Linked DNA regions of Homo sapiens: region 2 is linked to region 1. The links come from fine-mapping of genetic effects on gene expression. Tissue or cell type: whole blood. Region 1 holds a variant in brackets; the other region holds the start of a gene. All regions are shown on one strand. Distances are between the middles of the regions.

Region 1 (2,690 bases):
TAAAGAAAACAGGGGACACATACACCATAGAATACTATGCAGCCATAAAAAAGAATGAAATCATGTCCTTCACAGCAACATGGACTGAGCTGGAGGCCATTATTCTAAGAGAAATAACAGAAATAGGAAATAAAATACCACACATTCACACTTACAAGTGTGAACTAAACAGTGGGTAAACATGGACATAAAGATGGGAAAAACAGATGCAAAGAACTCCAAAAGGGGGAAGAGTGGAAGAGGGGTGAAGGTTGAAATTCTACCTATTGGGGACTGCGTTTACTATTTGGGTGATAGTTTCACTAGAAACCCAAACCTCAGCATTACACATTATGCAATATAACAAACCTGTACCTATCCCCAAATCTAAAATGAAATTTAAAATTTAAAAATTAGTAATTTTAAAAAATGGATCAAAGACCTAAGTGGAAGATCAAAGCTATAAATCTCCTAGAAGAAAACATAGAATAAAGTTTTATAACCTTGGTTTTGGCAAAGGATTCTTAGATATATACAAAAATAACGAGAAATGAAAGAAAAAAGTAGATAAATTGGACTTCACCAAAATAAAAAATCTTGTGCTTCAAAGGACACTGCCAAGAAAATGAAAAGGGCCTATAAAATAGAAAAAAAAAATGCAAATCAAATATCTGATATGGGACTTGTATTTAATATATATCTGTTACAATTCAGTAATACAAAGGCAAATAACCAAATTTAAAACTAGGCAAAGGAAATGAATACACATTTATCTAAATAATATATACAAATGATCATTAAGCACATGAAAAGATGCTCAGTATCTTTAGTCATTAGGAAAACGCAAGTCAAAACCACAGTGAGATATCACTTCTTACCCACAAGGGTTAGCAAGGATATAGAAAAACTGTAACCCTCATACACTGCCGGTAGGAATGTAAAATGGGGCAGCTGCTTTGAAAACAGTCTGTCAGTTCCTTAAACAATTAAACAGAGAGTTACTACATGGCCCAGCAATTATACTCAGGTATATTTCTAAGAGAAATGAAAACACATGTCCACACAGAAACATGTACATGAATGTTTATAGCAACATCATTCATAATAACCAAAGGGTGGAAACAACTCAAATGCTCCTCAGTTAA[C/T]GAATGGACAAACAAAATGTGATCTATCCAGACAATGGAATATTATTAGGCCATAAAAAGAAATGAAGTTCTAATACATGCTACGACATGGATGAACCTTGAAAAGATTATGCCAAGCAAGAAAAGCCTATTACAAAAGACCACATATTAAATGATTCTATTCATATGACATGTCCAGAATAGGGAAATCCATAGAGACAGAACATAGGTTAGTAGTGCCTAGGCTGGAGTGGTGGGGAAAGGTGTTATGAAAAGAGGTGACAGCAGAAACATACAGGCTTTCTTTTGGGAGTGATCAAACAGTTCTAAAGCTGATTGTGGAGATGGTTGCACATATCTGTGAAAAGACTAAAATCTATTCAACTGTTAACTTCTATTGGTCAAGTTGTATGGTATGTAAACTGTATCTTTAACAAGCTATTAAAAATATTTGCAATTTATGATAGATGATTTTTATGAGGTGCTTCAGTCTTAAGCATTCAAAGAAATTGATAGGAAAACTAGTAAAATCCCCAAAAAGAAATGGGGAAAAAGAAAAATGGCCAATTCACGAGAGAAGAAATACAAATGGCAAATAAACATGAAAAAAAAATTCAACATCATCAGTTGCTGAAATAAAATGAAAATAAAAACAAAGCATCATTTACCTATCAAATTATCATGATGTAAGAGAGAGAAGGAAGCATAGCACAGTGTAAATATAGATACGCACATACACATCCATACAGATATTATATGGTTGTTGAATTTTATGAGTTAATCCCCAAGTGCATGTGCATGCACACATACGCACACACACACACACACACACACACACACACAAAGCATACCAAAGGAGTATTAGTGGTTGTGCTGTACTGTAAAATTATATAGATGGATTACAATGAGCAATAAAACATTTTTTTAAGTAGGTATTTTAAAAAAATCTATGAAAATATCCCCTTTAATGTAATCAAAGGAATGAAAAGAGCAATGAAGAAGGCAGCATTCTGGAGAGAAATGTGGGCAGCTGCCCACAGTGGGGCGATCACAAAAACGTTTCTATTTGTACAATCCCACACCTATGAAGGCAAAAGGGGCCACAGGATGTGCCCATCCATGCGGTAAACATCTTCATTCATTACCTGCTTTAGAAGTAACAAGCTGCAGCACAAGAGGTCGTCTTGTTACAATGCCCGACCCTCGAGGGAGAAAGTCCCTAAAAAAAGTAAGAAATACAGATTAAGGCATGAAGGAATTCTTATCACCTGTACATTCATAAACCAAGTTCCACAGCAATTCTCCTAATTCCCAACCTTTCAATGTATCGCTTATCCAAACAATGATAGGCCCATCTTAATAAAAGAAGCATTTTCAAATTTAAAAAAAAGGAGGAGGAGGGCCTTATATTGCACAGAAATCCATGTACATTATCATAATGACTTCACTGGAATATGTCATTCATTCATCTAGCTGAAACTGATAAAAGTTTGCCCTTAGTTTCTGTGTATTATCAATGAATTTTGATTTTCAGAGAATCAGCATTAAAGAAAATATGTGATACTGAAATTAATTCTTAAACTCTTT
Region 2 (2,690 bases), 81 kb after region 1:
GTATTAAGAGTCATGAGGAAAACCACAGCTACAATTTAGATTCAGAATGTTGTCTTGAAGGCTAGCAAGACAAATAGGAGCTTAGAGAACGGAAGATGATGCTGGGGGAGGGGGCGCAGAGAGAGTGCGAGAAAGATGCTGGTCAGTTCCGAGATGATGCAGGAATGACATGGCACCTGGACAACATAAGTCCACGTCCACCCCCTGCCAAGTCTGTGCCTCGGGCTCTCTCACAATTGCCTGAAGCTGTGAATAGGTGCACACGCAAACACACCACCTTTTATTCTTCGACTCTCCGGGAGGAGAATGGTGGGGAAGCGTCTCTGGATAAAGCTTCACCACAACAAACGACGTCTTTCTCCTCGCACCCCGCCTCCCCAGCTAGAGGCAGGCAACAGTAGACAGCTGAGAGGAACGAGAACCCTGGCGAGAAGGAAAGCATCTCCACCTAAGGGAGGGGGCTCGGGGGATAAAGCCCCACAGCCTCACAGGGAGCCTCACGGAGGGCGACAGGAAAAGGAGGGGGGTGTTGAGCTGGGAAAACAGGAGAGGGGCACTGGGAAGCTTTCGGCGCGCTACGCAGGGAGGCTGCCCGGGGCTGGCGCGCACCGAGGGGGTGGGGGTCGAGCCCGGGGCGGACCCCTCCCCCGACTCCCCGACTGGAGGACAGGGAGGAAATGGCTTTGTATCGCACGATGAAAGGCAGGCAGGAGGGCCACCAGGCGGGGGGTGGCAGGGGACGGAGGATGCCCAGAGCTGGAGGACCCCGCCCGCCCCACGGACACCGCCACTCTGCCCCCCATTCCACTCTGCCCCCCATTCCACCGCAGCGCCTGGTCCATCCACCCTCTGGCTCCCGCTGCCCGTCCACGTTCCAACGGCCCGCAGCGGGGTCGCCCCACTGCCGCATCCTTACTCCGCGCCCTGCGCGCTTACCTGCCCACGAAGTTCTCGAGCACCGAGCTCTTGCCGGCGCTCTGGCCGCCCACCACGGCGATCTGCGGCAGCTCCAGCAGGCAGCTCTGTCCCAGCGCCGAAAACGCGTCCTGCAGACGGTTCACCAGCGGGATCAGCTCCTCCATCTCCCGGTTCCCCATCTTGCCCGAGGGGCCGGCGACCAGCTGGTCCCTGCTCGCCTCTACGACCTGACAGGGAGTAGGGGCCGCGCTGCCCTGGCTGCTGCTGCTGCGCCGGGCTCAGCCAGCCAGGTCCTGGCGCAGACGTCGGAGCCCGCCGCCAGCCCGCCGCTTGGCTCTGACAGCTAACGACCCGCAGCGCGCCTGCGCGGGCGGGCAGGGGCGTGGCCTATCTCCGCGACGCCCCGCCCCCGCCCCGCGGCTGCCCCGCCCCGGGCTTCCCATCGGACCACCAGGCCAGGCGCGCACGCACTGCAGCCCAGCTGCGGCCAGATGCCACGGCCTCTGCGTTCTGTGGCCAAGGCTCAGAGGCCAAGTTACAGCGCCGGGTCAGGAAATGGCATGAAATCAGCAGCAGCGGCAGCGTTGTTCTCTTTCAGCGGCTACCAAGCCAAAGCCCAGTGGAAAGCACTATCGCCGCTAACACCACCACACGATCACCAGCAACAGCAGCACCGCCGCCGCCACCACCGGGGCACCGCTGCCAGACTACACTTCCCGAAAGGAAATCTCCTCTGTCACGCCCTTCTCCAGAATCCGCGATGACTCCTCCCAGGGTGGCAGGCCTGTTGGAGTCTAAATTCTTCAATGTGACATCCATCTAAGGCCCTGAGTGGTCTGACCTTACTTAATTCTTCATCTGTAATGACTCGTCCTCCCCAGCCCCGCATAAGCACAGGTAGAGTCTGTAGGGTTTACCGCCCCGATACACCCCTTTAATCACTCTGGCCTGTGAGACTCCTCATGCCATTTGCCCTCCCGGTCTATCTCCTTCTACCGGATCTATCCAGAACCAGGTACCCTGGACGCATTCTGTGAAATTTAGCACATTGAGAAGTGACTGTGTGTGGGGTCCTGTGCCTGATGATCGGGACACAAAGATAAATGGCCATGCTTCTCTTAGCCTCCACAGACGGTTCCTTTTTAGTCTGCTCCTCAAATACTGATGCTTCGCAGGGTTTCATATATGGGCATTTTCTTGTCTAATGTTTGTCCTCTGCCTGAGGACTTTCCCATAGCTTTAACTCTGAATCAAGGCTGGCGACTACAGAAATTTACATTGCTAGACCCTGTCTCTCTTCTGCAACTTAGACTGTACTCCAAGAGGAGCCCAGAATACTACCTGAGTGTCCTACAAGTACTACAGACTCAATTTATTCAAAACTGAAGTCATCTTTTGTAATCTCAGCATTTAATGTACAGTTCCTTCTAACTCTAAAAAGACATATTAAAATGTTCATAATGTCAAAAAACCTGAAAACAACCCAAATGTCTATCAACAGGTGAATGAATAAACAAACGTGGTATATATATATAGTGAAATAATCTCTGCCACAAAAAAGACTTTTGATATAGCAACAATCTCAGATACATTATGTAGAATGAAAAAGGCCAAAGACCATATTGGTTTGATTTCATGTATGTGAAGTTCTACAACCAGCAAAGCTATTCTATGGTAATAGAAATCGGAACTGTGGTTGTCTTTGAGGAGTGGAGATTGACTGTAGGAGGCATGAGGAAACTTTCTGGAGTGATGGAAATGTCCCATGTCTT

What was found. PIP is the estimated chance that this variant, and not a neighbour inherited with it, causes the effect.
Region 2: DNM3 starts here. The variant in region 1 is fine-mapped to the expression of DNM3 in whole blood (INTERVAL, PIP above 0.99).

What each region holds. Positions count from the first base shown.
Region 1 is chr1:171,921,380-171,924,069 of GRCh38, reverse strand. It overlaps DNM3 (dynamin 3), which reads right to left. Exons shown (of 21, transcript NM_015569.5): 2 at 2,249-2,322. Among named protein-coding and RNA genes, the nearest start is that of DNM3-IT1, 59 kb to the right of the region's middle. The variant C/T (reference allele first, on the strand shown) is at 1,125.
Region 2 is chr1:171,840,064-171,842,753 of GRCh38, reverse strand. It overlaps DNM3 (dynamin 3), which reads right to left and starts at 1,256. Exons shown (of 21, transcript NM_015569.5): 1 at 937-1,256. The coding sequence starts at 1,097. RefSeq lists an enhancer at 832-1,011 and a silencer at 1,212-1,441.